Homo sapiens: one gene and its partner. The protein of the gene in region 1 interacts with the protein of each later gene in a pairwise test. Each region holds a gene or a part of one and is shown on either strand. Other genes may lie near its edges.

Region 1 (7,787 bases):
AGCCTTGGGGGCCCAACCGCCAACCCAGTGTGTCCAGAAGGCAGGACATCAAGTCCAAGATTATTCTCAAGCCTTATTAAGGCTTAACATTGTTTGCCCCACTGGGTTAGGACCTGTCAGTAACACTCCTTTCTTCCTGTTGTTCCCTTTTGGAATGGGAATGTCTATTCTATGCATGTCCTACCATCGTATTGTGGAAGCACCTAACTTGTTTGATTTCACAGGCTCACATGTGGAGGAGAACTTGTCTCAGGATGAATCGTATCTTGAAACTCATCCATATCTGATTTGGATGATGATATTCAGACCAGACTCTGGACTTAGACTTCTGAATTGACACTGGGATGAGCTAAGACTTTTGGGGCTATTAGGATGAAATCAGTGTATTTTGCATGTGAGAAGGACATAAATTTTAGGGAGCCAGGAAGTATCTGTGTCCCTCCAAAGTTCATTATGTTGAAACCTCATTCCCAATGCAATAGTATTCAGAGGTGAGACCTTAAGGAGGTGATTAGGTCATGAAGGCACAGCCCTCATGAATGAGACTTGTGCCCTTATAATAGAGCCCTATGAGCTTATTCACCCCTTCTGCCATGTCATGACACACCAAGAAGGTGTCATCTATGAGGAAAAGGGCCCTCACCAGACACTGAATCTGCCAGTGCCTTGATCTTGGATTTCTGAGCCTCTAGAACTGTGAGCAATAGATGTATATTGTTTACAAATTACCCAGTCTCAGGTATTTATTTTATCATAGCAGCCTGAACAAATTAAGACAGGCTAGTAAGAAAAGGTAGAGTTTAAGGAAAGGTAACTTTGATTTTAGACAATTTTTAAAGGTAAGACTAGAACTTAGAGATAACTAATTGGGAATCATACAGAGCAGCAGGCACGGTGGAAACACAGAGGAGAGGGGTACAGAGAGAGCAGAGGAGATGCCTCAGGGGACAGCCAAGGTCTCCAGGGCTAGGAGGGAGGAAGAGTTAGCAAGGTTAATGGAAGAGCTGCGGTCTTGAGTGATGGTGGTTATGGAAACAGCATCATTTCTCCATTCATTAGTGCAAAGTGCTCTATTTTCTCAGTATAGATTTCAGACTAAATCTAAAGAACCTATATTCAAAGACATCCATAAAAAAGACTACACAGTACACTGTCAAGTAAGAACGACAAAGGGTTCACTGGGTTTTTAATAGTCAAGGCTGGTACTAGACTGCAGACCCCAGGGAATGCTTTTCATGGCTGTATTAATGTATCAAGTTCTAAGTCAACAAATTGGCAGTTGCAATGACTTTTTTAACCAGAAATAATTATTAATGGGAAAAGCAAGTTTCCAACATCCCTATCCTTCCCACATTATGACTTCCATTGACAGTGATTTTTAAATATATAATTACTCAGAAAATGGATTAAAACCAGATTATTCACTGTCCGACACCAAATTTTTTCAGTGATGTTAAAAATTCTCTTTTTGGATAGTAATTTCCATCACTTGGAAAATAAAAGCCAAATACAGTATGATCAATCAAGAGTGTTGCTGGTCGCACTGAAAACTGTGAATCCAGGGGAGATACATGCCTTCTGGCTGGAGTTCCTCCCCAGAAACAAGGGGCAAGACCAGTACTAACAGCAGGAAAATGAAATTTCAACCCACAAGGCCCTCTGTGGTCAGGTGCCACCCAGTCCCAAGTAGTCAGTCTCTAAATGCTGAGACCTCTGAGAAGGCAGGAACTTTCTGGAACTATTGTGTTCATTTTAAACTTACAGATTCTGCTGGCTTGCATTTTATTTTATACTAACTTGCCTACTATCCCTTTAAACTGCCTGTTCTCTCCCTCATCTCTCTTTAAACGAAAAATAATATCCTATAAAACAGAGCAGACAGACAGCTGTGCACTACTGCGTAATCCATCTTTCTAAAATCCTCACACTTGACACAGAAGCCAACTCTCATTTTAGATGCTTGGAAATAGAATCAAGAGCAAATTCTAGCATTCTGGGTGGCTAGGTTGAAAGTACACATGGCAGTTCTCAGAAGGGTGATGGGGCCAGCGTCAAGAAATGCTCTGTTCTTACCGATCACACCCTTCATCCAGATCTTGACAATCACACAAACAAGTAGCCACGTGGTTCTTTTCCCCATTCCGATCTATGTACTCGCAGCAGCACAGGGGCTCCAATTCAGGTTCTTCGGTTTTCTTTTTCTTCACAGGCTTCATACTGCCCTTCTGTGTCATGATTTGCACCTGTCACCATGAGGCGTAAGAAGCCCTCAGAAGGTAAAGGTGGAAAGAACACAACTTACATCTCGTAAATAGGTCCACGCCTCTCTCTCTCTGCTTAACCTCCAACGCCTGAGCAATCAAAAATGAGAAGAGAGAGGGGGAGGGGGTCCCGTTTTCATCAGGCTTCTGTGGCTCCGCCTGGCCACACAGGGGGCTCCAGGGTTCTTGGAGGTCTGAGCTGCCTTCACCGCCCCTTCCCAGCCTGGGCAGGCGCCGTCTGGGCACCAGCCGTTCCTATGGCGACAGCCGACCACGCGTCCGGGACAGCCGGGGCGCGGGCGGTTGCGCTCACCTGCGGGTGCAGGCTGGGAGGGCCGAGCGGTCTCCGCTCCAAGCCTGGGCGCTGGTGGGAACTCAGCCTCGGGGCTATAGGGAAAGGCGAAGCATATGCCCGCTAGCAGCGGCTGACACACCAGGCTCCCTGGCAGTGCTCAGGGGTCGCGGTCCAGCCCAACTGGTCGGGCCCCTTGCAGGGTGCGCCTCTCCCGCCCCCGCCAATCCGGAGGACGTGGGCGGGCCTCGCGCACCACCCCGCCAGGAGAATGACCTTGGAAGGGAAGTTACCTGCCCTCTGGCCGGAGGTGCAACTGCAGCCAAAGAGGCGGAGGGGAGATGGGTCGGCTTCCCCGGAGGCACAGACGCGTCTCCCGATCTCTGCTACGCGGAGCCCCGGGCGTGACGGCAGGAGTCTCCGGGACCCGGGCTCCGCTCGGCCGCTCCCTCGCCGCAGCCGCCCACCTGTGACCACAGCCCGCCGCGGCCCGGGCGGCGCGCCCGCCTCCCCGCGCCGTCCCAACCGCCCCTCCGCCCGCCCGGCTCGGTGCGCCAGGTCCACGCGCGCTTCCGGGTGCCCCGCCCCCGGCGCCGGGGTTCCCCGCCTGTCCGCACGTGCGCCGCCCGCCTCCCCGCGGTGCCCGCGGGCGAGGCTCCTCCTCCTGGCCCGCGGCCCTGGCGCCGGGAAGGGGAAAATCGGCTCCCGAGAGCGCGTCCAGGAGGCAGGGGCAGGAGGTGGGTCCCGCACCTCCGGCCTGCCCCGCCACGCCACGCCCCGCCCCGCCCCAGAGGCGGCAGCCGGGCGCCGCCGGTGCCTGCGGGCGGCGCGCCGGTGGGACAGCCTCCGGAGCCCCGGGGTGCGGACGAGGTGCGGAGACGGAAATACGGGAAACCCGGGAACCCGGAGGATTTCCGAACTACGTGAGACCGTGGAGCCGCCAGCCTTCATTCAGACTCCGGCAACAGGCGGTGAGGGAGCTTTCCACCGCAAAATGTTATCCAAGTACCTCCCCCAGTTTCGCTGACCTTCTCTTAAAGGCCCATCACTGCTGCCGGATCTGTTCATTTAGCAACCTGTTCGTTTCATGATTTCTGGCTAGCAGCCTTTACATTGGACCAGCAGGCCTCGCTAGTACTTTTGTTCCAGTCGTCTGTGTATTTGAGATGAAACTGCCCTGAGATGAGAGTCCTTTTTGGGTTTTATTATTGCACAAAATTTCTTTAAAGAGTGTGGGCCCATGTACACGTTTCACTACCGCAGGCTTTCTAGTTTTGTTTTTAAGTAGAAAAAGAAGAAAAACTACAACTCAGAAATTTTCAATTTTATTAATATTCAATTTACGTAACAGGCTCAAATTTTATTAATTGAATTCTGCATCCATACGAATTTAGTCTTAATTTATAAAGCAACTTACTTCGATACTCTTCCTTGAAGTATGTTATAAAATACAACGTTTAAATAAACATCACAAAAATATTGTTTGTCGATCATTTTTGTGACTTTAACAGAGAAATCTTCAAGTTTATAATCCACTCATTCTTGCTTACAGCCAGACACTACATAAATCCTTACCAAAACAAAACAAACCCAGGTAGGTTCACTGTTACCCCTAGGTATGCTTCGTTGGAATTCACCCAGAGAAACCCATTTTCCCTCTAACGGAGTCAATACTTTCATTCTCTACAGGCATCTCAAAAATGACTATAATAATGCCATGTGGCTTTGGGGACTCTGGAGAAAAATGAAACATTTAATTAAAGGCAATAGTTGTTCAAACAGTAAGAATGTATACACAGTTTATATATAGATAGATAGATGGATATGTATTTTTTCCCCAGAGAAAGGGCTCAAGAGACAAAACAGTAAAACACTTCAACTTTCCCTAACTCTTGAAAAAATATCTGATTTTAAGTCAGTTTACAAAGTTCTTATTTTAATGAGCCACTTGTATGGAGACACATATGCATAAAAACTTTTTATGAAAGAGCCAAAGCTTGCATCTGAGTTAAAACTTGATAGTCAGTACACTTGTACTGGGACATACGTGCCCCTGAAGTTTTTATTAAAGAGCTAAAATCTATGTCTGGCTTATAACTTACCAATCAAAACAAGTCACACACATACATAAAGAAGGAAGCCATACATGGTTACTGAAAATACACAAATTATTTTCAACCAGATGTGTCACTTCCACCATGAAAGACTGCTAAGCTGAAGCCAATCTTAGTTCAAGTATGCATTTGATCTGTCACTAAATGCCCAGATTTTAACATAACCTTCTGGTTTTTAAAACTCAGAGGATGGTTCTTCCTTTTGACTGTTGGTATTCTAAGTGAGGAGGCAAGATAATCCCACCTCTGATAGTTACCTTAAGAAAAAACAACTATTTCTTTCATAAAGATACAGCATGGCAGAAGACCCTTTCTGATAATCATCATCAACATGCAGATTCAAAAAGTTTGACTATTAAATTTGCATGCTAAATAAATGAAGACATTATAATCTTTACAGTACACAAACCTGGAAATGTTATATGCCTGAAAACAGAACCTTTAAAATCAGTAATGACATAGAGGTTTCTTCTTATATTGTCCTGTTTATCCTCTTGGTCTTATCTCAGTTACAAAAGCGACCTATTGGACATGTACGGATTCTGTGCTAACAAAGCATCAGACTTCACTGTAGAAATGAGACCATACCACTCAATTCAGGGTGTGTCATTTTCTTTTTGTATCAGAGAAATTCAGTTCTATAATATATTTCATGGTTCACTGAAGAAATTCACAGCTTAAAAATATCTATAAGAAGTGAAAGGATGGATTATTAAGGCCAGCAGAAACTAATTATCAAATAAATGTTACTGAAAGAAATGTTCATATTAGAAATCTCAATAATGAAAAAACATAGAAATGTTCTATGCCAAAATCCTTCATTCGTCTGGTTTTCTTCCAGGTATTTTCTTTAAGTTCCAAGTATCTCTGCGGTTTTAGTCCTTCAGATCACTAGCTTTCAACAGCCATGCCAGTCTTATTCTTATTTAGTAGATCAAACGTTTTCTGAAGCATAATGAGTGAGCTCTTCAGCTGTAAACAAAGTTAATTTTCAAAATCAGATTAATTTTTCTAATCAGATTTGAAAATTTCTGTTTTTTATGCCCAAAATTTACAGTGACACTTAATATAGTTTTGTTTATACTGATGCCCAAATAAAACGTTAAATACAAAATACCTGATTCTTTGGGGTATCTATCAGTATGATTGCTACAGAGTTCTTCCCATTTGCTGGAGTATTGTACTTCTTCCTACTGCTACATAGTCTACCTCCCAATAGGTCCATTAATCAAATTAAGCGTAGTGACAGACTCGTTTTCCTAAAAGATTTCTGAAGTTGCAGTGGTCTCCTCACTATCCCCTAAACAACTCAAGTTTGCTTCAGTGCCTTTGCATGCTCTCATCCTCATGTTCTTCACCTAAAACTTACTCATATTCACACTCTTCATGTAGTTTTCCCCAGTCATTCTGCCTATAAACTCCCAAAGCATTATCCTTACTACTTAACACTTTGACACTGAATTTTGTAATCTTTGTCATTAACAATACACCTGGACATCTCATTTCTCTAAGAAAATTGTGTGCAACTCAAGAGCAGGAATTATGTCTTACTCTTTTTTTGTATTCATTCAACAAATATTTGTTGCTTGCCTATCACATGTTGGGCAGTGTTCTAAGCACTGGATATACAATGGAGAACCAAATAGGCACTGTCCTGTCCTTCATGGAGCTTACAGACTAGTCAGGGATCCAGAACTATTAATAAAACAAATAATCACATACATAAATATATACTTAGATATTTTATTAAGTTTTTGACTTGAGCAGCTGGTGGATGGTAGCATCATTTTCTGAAATGAGACCCACTAGAGAATTAGGTTTTGGATTAGAGGAAAATTGACTTCTGTTTTGGACATAATCAGTTTGGGAATCCTGTTAGTCATCCAGGTGAAGATGCCAAGTAGGCAAGTGACTGTATGAGTCTAGAGCTCAGGTCGAGGTGAGAGATACGGACTTGGGAGTTGCTGCTATCTGAACATTTGTGTCCCCTTCAAAATTCACGTTCAAACTGAATCCCCAATGCAACAGCATGAAGAGACGTGGCCTCTGGGAGGTGATTAGGTCATGACGGCTCCTATGAATGGATTAGTGCTCTTATAAAAGAGCTTCAGGGAACTAAATAGTCCCCTTTTTTGTCCTTCAGTCCCTTCTGCCAGGTGGACACCAAACATGCCAGAACCTTAATCTTGGACTCCTCAGCCTCAGAACTGTGAGCAATAAATTTCTGTTCTTTATAAATTACCCAGTCTCCAGGATTTTGTTATAGTAGCACAAATGGACTAAGACAGGAGTCATTGGAACGTGTGGTTATTTAAAGTTAGGGGTGTGAATAAGATCACCTAAAGGGAGAGTAATAGAGAAGGAAAGAGAATCTAACACAGAGCCCTGGAGCATTTGGGCCAGGAGGAAGTCAGGCAGAGGAGATATTTTTATTTTTTATTTATTTTTATTTTTTGGAGACGGAGTCTCGCTCTTTCACCCAGGCTGGAGTGCAGTAGCATGATCTCAGCTCACTGCAACCTCCGCCTCCTGGGTTCAAACAATTCTCCTGCCTCAGCCTCCCGAGTAGCTGGGACTACAGGCGCCTGCTACCACCCCTGGCTAATTTTTTGTATTTTAGTAGAGACGGGGTTTCGCCAAGTTGCCCAGGCTGGTCTCAAACTTCTGAGCTCAGGCAATCTGCCTGCCTTGGCCTCCCAAAGTGCTAGGATTACAGGTGTGAGCCACTGTGCCCAGCCAAGGAGATGTTTTTAACTAGCAAAAATTAGTTTTACATTTTTCTAAGTGAAAGAAGCCAATCTCAAAAGACCACGTATTGTATTATTCCATGTATATAACATGTCCAGAATAGGCACACCCATAGTAATGGAAATTAGATTAGTGGGTGCCAGGGGTCAGGGGGAGTGAGGGATGGGAATTAACTACTAATGTGTACAGATTTTCTTGTGGGGTTATGAAAATGCTCTGGAATTAGATAGTGATGATGGTTGCACAACCTTGTGAATAAAAACTTTTATTGTATGTAAATTACATCACAAAAAGATTTTTTTATGGTTTTAAAGAAAGCAAGATTAGATACATTAGATACATTTCAAGAAAGAAGTGTTTAGCTCTGTCAAA
Region 2 (7,030 bases), on another chromosome or scaffold:
TATACTTAGAACATTTGGATACCCCTGCTGTCAGGGATGGGAAGTAACACAGAGGTTTTAAGCGAGAAGTTCTACGGACTTGAGGTCTGGGATTTTTGCTCCGCATCCACCCGCGGACCCCTCCTCACCAAGCCGCTCGATCTGTTTGAAATCATCCGTTTGAAGGCCCAAAGAAGAGCCTGCCTCAACGAGAAGCCCTAGCACAGAGATATTCTCACAAAGAGCGCTCCGTAAGTACAAATGACTGTTTGATCAATCATTTGGCCTCAGCGTGGGATTTGGTTAGAATTAAAGCCATCTGGCTGGGGTTGACGGGGGGTACGGAGGGAGGAGACAAGCAGGCGGGAAAAAGACCCACCCCCCTCCCCCAAAAAGCATTGTTAAAACAGGGAAAAATAGTAAAGTTCCTGCTGTTATTTCAGCCTAAGCCACTTAATCCATCAGCACATAAAGCAACTTATTTTATGACCTTTTCCCTTTAAAAAATAAATCAGAAGACGATGCCTTGAATTCACATATCTCTGAAGCACACTACTCATCCCTCCCAGTGAAATATCCTGTTTCATAAACCTTCTTCGAGATACTTGAAACTGCAGATCACTAAATGCTTTGCTTTAGGCATCTGACATTCCAGAGAATTAATATTTAAACTTATTATAGGAAAAAAGAATTGAGTTTGGTTGAAGCATGAAATATTTAATAGTGTCTCCAAATTAGAAACCCTATTTTGTTTCGCGCTGGAAATGCCACGATATTACCTGGGCTTTGCACTCAAATAAGATAAAATGCAAAGGCAGTCTTGAGATTAAACACACAATTACAGCCGTTTTCTCCAGAGAGATGGGGAGTGAGACAGGTTTGGGGAGTGGAAGTGATTGAGTTTCATTTTTACGATATGCTTAAAATTATATTATCATTCTCTGCCTTGAGGGTTGGACTTGAGACTGCTGAAGCTACTTAACCACCGAAAACGGTGTCAAAATCAGTGACTCCGCGGAGGCCTATTCTCAGGCTCTTTAAACCGTCGTCTTGGGATGGGCCCAGTGACAAGCAAAAAACTCCGTAACTTTCTCTGCTTGCTAGGACAAAAGTATTCGGTGGTTTAGGATAAAAATTAAGCTCCAACTGACACAGTGGATCCTGGCAACCTCTGCCGGCACGTGTAATTTATTTACAGGGTTGGAAAGTTGGCAAAATACATCATCAACTCTTACACAAACTTCTACTAGGTATTAAATACCCAACCCTCTGAGAAGTAATTCATATAGTCCAGCAGCGTTCCAAAATAAACCCAATCTCCAGTCCTCCGGAGAGCTTAAAACAGCAAATGGGATCTGTATTTTTCAAGTCAGGTTTATAGTACTCCCTGGTTTCTTGCTAAAGCCTGATTTCTAGCAAACCTGTTATTTAAAAACAAAGGTAACATCTAAAAGAGTAATCTGGTTGCTAAAAAGACACAAATAGGAACAGGCTGGGCTGTACGGCAGGCAGGGCCATCCCTTGTACTTCATTCACTCCCCTTCAGACACAGCGGCACGTAGGAAGGCAAAAACACCTCGGACCAGAACGGCTCCTGCAAGTCCATCTTCAGAATCAGTATGACTCCCTGAGAATGTACACATTCTCATGAATGCACGTGCAAGGCCACAGATGCAACCAGCCGTGGGACCTTTACCTTCCATAGGGGGGGTCATCTAGCTCATTCATCATTTGACACAAAAGACCCATTTCTCACAAGCAAACTCTCAAGTTCACTCTGATCCCCAGCCTGTTCTCCCTCCCAAGCCCTACTTCATCCCACCAAGTGTTTAACAAGAAATAATTGTTTAATAGATCCCTGAGCCAACATGCTTGGGGAAGCACGTATTCTATAACCAGGCATGGTGGGGATCTTGAGGAATTCTCGTCCAACAGATGTCTTTGAAAGCCATAGAGGGGAGACTACGACCGGGGCCTTGGCAAGGAATCTCCCCATATGGCAAGAAAGACTCAGACAGGGACTACTACCTGCAATAACCAGTCAGGACGGGAGTTGCCACTGCTTCTGAGAAGCGGTCCCTCCTAGGGGCCCCCTCCATGGCCTCAGAGAGTCTTTTTCCAGACCCCAGATTCCTGAGGATCCTGAGTCACTGGGAACATTCTCCTTTCCCTAGTTCTGCAGGGGGAGAGGAGCAGTGCCCTACGGAGGCAGAGTATCCCCTGTAAGTCGCACCTCAGCCTGTTGGCTGAGACTGAGAAAGGGGTGCTCTGGGATGTGGCTGTCTGGGCCCCCTGCAGCCTCCTGCTGCCTTCCTTTGGGCTTCCTTGGGGGCGCGCAGCTCTCTAGAGCCGCATCCTCTCCTTCCCAGCCGCCTGGGTTTAAGAAGCTGGTCCTGGAGAGTGGTGTATTTTCAGAGGAAAGTACTGGCTCTGCTGTCAGACAGACCTGGGTTCAAATTCCAGGCTCTGTTGCTTACTACATGCACAACCTTGGACAAATCACTTTGCCTTTCCAAGCCTCAGTCCCCCCATCTTTAAAATTAGAACAGTGCCTCCTTTCTTCCTAGGGCTGCTGGGCATAATTAAATGTGATCACGTCTCTAAAGCATCTCACCTGGCACAGAACAGCCGCTCACTAAAGGTTAGTTGACCTCCCTCTTCCCCATTCTTTCTGTGTTCATCTTTAGCAGTCAAGAGTTCCAGTGTATAACCTGGTCTGAGACAAAAGTGGCCTCTTCCTACACCCCAGATCCTTCCAAACCTTCCCAGCCCAGTCAGTGTGGAATCCTGGAGTATCAGCAGGCAGGGACTATGGATCATCCAACTGAACTGCTCTCCATTTTACAGATGGGAAAACCAAGGCTCAAAGCACAGGGCACGGCCCACTTGCAAAGATGCTACACAATGGCTCATGTGTTAGCTCCAGGCAGGCCCAACCATAACCACCAAATAAATTCAGGCCATCCAGGAAATGCGTTATTCAGTTAACAGACTAAAGGTCTCTTCTCAGCGCATCTGACTCAAATGCTAACTTTAAAAACACAGCTCGTAATGCTAACACGATCCGCCTCGATCCACCGGAAACCTACTGAAGGAATAATCCTTTGGAGTTTAAGGGGGAAAAAGGGCAAAAGAAGAAAACATGCTTTAAGTGACTTTCAACTCTGAGACCACTGGGTTAGGGTTGTATTCTCTCCACCCCTACCCAGCCCAGCCTTCGGCTTTCTTTCAGTTTCTTATAAATATGGCTTTGGGAGACCAAAGTAGCCACAAAACTACTTTTCCCCCTCTTTTCTGCTTTCCTTACTCAGTAACTCAGCTGTCAGTCCCTGGACTTTGCTTCCAATGCTGAAAGCTTTTTTTTTTTTTTCATTGTAAACTATTAATTTGGGCAGTGGCTGCTGATAAACAAGAAGTCCGTTTTTAAACTGCTAGAATCATTAGCACAGTGAAGGCGAGCAGCACAAATATTTCAGGAGTTTGGTCTTTTTTCCTGGCCCTGGTATTACAGCTGTGCTTTTTGCATAATGCAGTCCAAGTTTTCAAAGCCCACTGCAAACTTTGTTTCATTTCTTCTCCCCCTTGAACTGAATGTCTTTGTTTCTTTAAATATAAAAATAAACTACCCCCCACCAAAAGAAACCACACAATTCTCTAGGTCCAAAATAATTGCAACGGAAATCTATATTAAAAAAAAAAAAATAACAAACCACACATTATAATTTAACTTTGAATATAACCGTATATGTAAGGTGAGGTTGCTGAAATACTACCACATCGTGTTGAAAACAGAATTCTTTTCCAAGACAATTGAGAGAAGGAAGGGAAATTATCCTCAGCGATAGTCACTGGTCGACTTCCCAATAAAGTTTATTTGTTTGTTATTTTTTCCCCTAATCCTATCCAAAACAGATTGAAAACCCTGTCCCAAACTTTAGTTTCTCCCCTCTTCCAGGATACTGGCCAAACTCCACAAAGTAAAACCGAAGAAAATGATGATAATTATGCAACATTCAGAACAAAGAACATAAGAATATATTTTTTTAAGTGATTCATTGTGCACTTATGCCTGTAATGGGATTTTAACGCACTGTAAAAATAAGTGTGCTGGCTCACTAAGCTTCTCACGCAAATGAAACGCAGGGAGATGAGTAACTCTGAGATGAGGTTCATTTTGTTTTTTGTTTTTTGTTTTTCAGAAAAAGAAGGATGAAGAAAAATCATAGCATATAAAGAAATTTACATTTTTAAATCACAGATGGAGCAACATAGACTATCGATGTGATTCCACAGCTCTGAAGCTCTGCAGACCTCAGTCCAGCTAAGCACGCTACAGGTAAACTACTCAGAAACAACTAAGCCTAAATTAAATTACGATCTCACGTGATGGTCCCCTTGCCATTTTGCCCACAGAGTCCTAGCTTCTAGAAAGCTTGAGAGGCAGGAAGGGAAGAGGAATTCTAGCCGCCCGAGATTCTTAGGGAATCTTTGGGAATTATATTTCCGCTACATGTCTATAAAAGATTTGTCGGATACATAACTCTTATGACTGTAGACGCAACATGTTCCTATCTCATTTTTTACCCACACACATACTTGTTTCTCTTTGTCTCACTGAGCCTGACATTTGGCCAGCAGGTTTTTCTCCCCCTTATTTGAAACTTCATGCACTGAAAAAATTTGGATCTGATTATTTCCGGATCGCAGGACCAGCACTTTAAAATGGATGAAATGCAAGCAAATTGCCCACCGGAGCCGGAGGGGAGAAATGCTTTAAAAGTCACTCATACCTTTCTATGAGGGATGCGCTAGCCTTCCAAGGCCTCCCCAGAACATCACAGGAGCTTCTTATTCAGATGAAGAAATTCAACCAGGTGGTACCACCAAAACATCATGACTTACTGTCCACCGCCCCCACTCCGAGTCCATGCGCACAATCTACAATTCCTTTTTTTTTTTTTTCAAGTTACAAGACTGACTGCTTTTTGGCATTTACAGCCATGATGGCTGTTTTTATAACGGCGGGGTTCACATTTGTCGTGATCAACCTCTTTTTTATTGCAAGGATGCATCCAGTCTCAGTACACAGTGAAAGGGCCCAGTGAGTCACTGTAAATTAAATAGTGACCTCATTATCTGGTTTGGTGTGGGAACAGCAACTCTGGACAAATGGAATCATGTGGTAAACTATAAAGTTTTCTAACTATGGCATAGATACTAGTTACCAATTCCCAAAGATGTGAGACAGTAGAAATACCAAAAGCAAAAGACATTTTTAAATTCTCTGGGAACGTTCAGAAGGCCTTCGTGTGAATGCCAGCTCTCGGCCGCCAACACACACATGTAGAAGGTACAAGTTGTGGAACCAGAATCAAATATTTGCAGCTGGAAGCCTGGAAACTGCCACCTACTGTCTGCAGCTTTGAGCAAATCCCTGAACCTTAATGTCTGCATCTATAAAATGGGAATCACATTAATAACAGCCAGTATCTGCCCAGCACTTTACAGACTTCTACATCTGCTCCCTCACAAGAGCCCCCAAGGCAGGCAGAGCCCAGCTGGCGTGAGGGCAGACAAGAGGATGTGTGGGAACACGCTCTGAACACTGTAAAGCACCGTGCACAGAGAACAAGCGTCATCAGGCCATCACCACAAAGCTGTCCGCCTGCATAAAGCCCAGATGTTTACCTTCTTTCCTTGTCAGGACTTATAAAAGCAGAGTGTCGGGTGTTTAATAATAGGAAAGAAAAATGCAGCATCTGGCAATTTGGCTTTTCCAGCTGTTTGGAATCTGGATAAACGGGACTCTGCCATAAACAGATCATGATTCTTATTGTAAATGATGACAATGTTAGTCCATGACATCACACCATCCCAGTGCCTCCCGATTCCAGATCAAATACACAGGCCCCAGACATTTATGGATAAACTACTAGGTTCAAGAACCCACTCTCTTCCTCTGCTTAGGGACTGTCTGAGGCAGGCGGCAGAGCATCTGAAACCTGACCCCAGGCTGAGCCATACTGTCTTCTCTCCGGTCACTGGGCAGCTGTGGCCACAAAAGACCTGAAGCTTGGCACCTCTCAGCCTCCCCTGGCTAGCACACCACAGTTAGCACCCTTCACATTCAGCATTTTAAAAATGTAACCTTGCTTCCTTCTCACTCTGTCCCCTTTATCTCAAGTGTCACTGACCCTTGCATGGGCCCTGCACGAATTAATAAAAGTGCCTCCTTCTACCTTTTTAGCTTATAAGGCATTCTTACAACTCTTGTTTTATTTACCCTGCAAGGTAGGCACCATTACCTCTCACGCAAATGAAAACCCAGAGGTTGAGAATGTGAAACAGGTTACAGTAGTAATCCTAAAAATAACCAGGCACTGAGGTGGCCCTTGCACATTCTTTATCACTAATGATCTCATCAGTCTTGCGAATTAAGTCTCAGGGTAAATTTACAAACGAAGGAACCAAAGGCTCAGAAGAGTAAAATCGATTCCCCCAAGTGCCACAGATCATAGATGGTGGGGTCTCACAATTCCCAGCACAGTCAATACATATTTTTCAATTGGTATTTCTGTCTGTTTCCAATAAGCCTGAGAACTTGGAGCTAGACACCAAATATTCAAAGGGTTACATGGTCTGGGACTATTTCGGTGGGAGTAGGGGCAGTAAGAAGGTGCCGTTTCCTCGCAGCATTTTTAAGGACGCTGAAGAACTGGGGGAAAGCTGGGTTTGTCTCGGGCCACTTGGTGACTGCACTGTGAGGAAAAGCTTGCCTATAGCAACACAGAGGCCAGCAGGGAAACCTCTCCAAGCCCAGGACCCTGAGCCTTCCCTTTCTCCCTAGGCCAGGTTAGGCCAGAGCTGTGGCTTCCCTAACCACTGCCCTACACATACCAAACACTTTCCCACCTTCAGGCCTCAGTTTCCTCACCCTTCAAATGAGTGGGATACATCCCACCACAACAGCCTCACTGGGAGGCTATGAAGAAAAGTTGTGAAACCTCTTGGAAAAAAGCTTCACCAGAGAGACCAGCTTAAGGTACAAAGA

Evidence for each region. The genes of interacting proteins can lie anywhere in the genome.
Region 2: the proteins of ZDHHC23 (region 1) and GLIS1 interact in binary tests that used the Homo sapiens proteins (3 or more experiments, as listed by UniProt).

What each region holds. Positions count from the first base shown.
Region 1 is NC_000003.12:113,943,250-113,951,036, reverse strand, and holds the start of ZDHHC23 (palmitoyltransferase ZDHHC23), read right to left. Parts: upstream 3,025-7,787; 5' UTR 2,847-3,024; intron 2,649-2,846; exon of another isoform or gene 2,352-2,648; 5' UTR 2,235-2,351; coding exon 2,074-2,234; intron 1-2,073. Other genes in the region: GRAMD1C (protein Aster-C), read right to left, coding at 5,559-5,639. UniProt on the Homo sapiens protein: Palmitoyltransferase that could catalyze the addition of palmitate onto various protein substrates and be involved in a variety of cellular processes.
Region 2 is NC_000001.11:53,729,135-53,736,164, forward strand, and holds part of GLIS1 (zinc finger protein GLIS1), read right to left. Parts: intron 5,070-7,030; exon of another isoform or gene 4,770-5,069; intron 1-4,769. UniProt on the Homo sapiens protein: Acts both as a repressor and an activator of transcription. Binds to the consensus sequence 5'-GACCACCCAC-3'. By controlling the expression of genes involved in cell differentiation inhibits the lineage commitment of multipotent cells.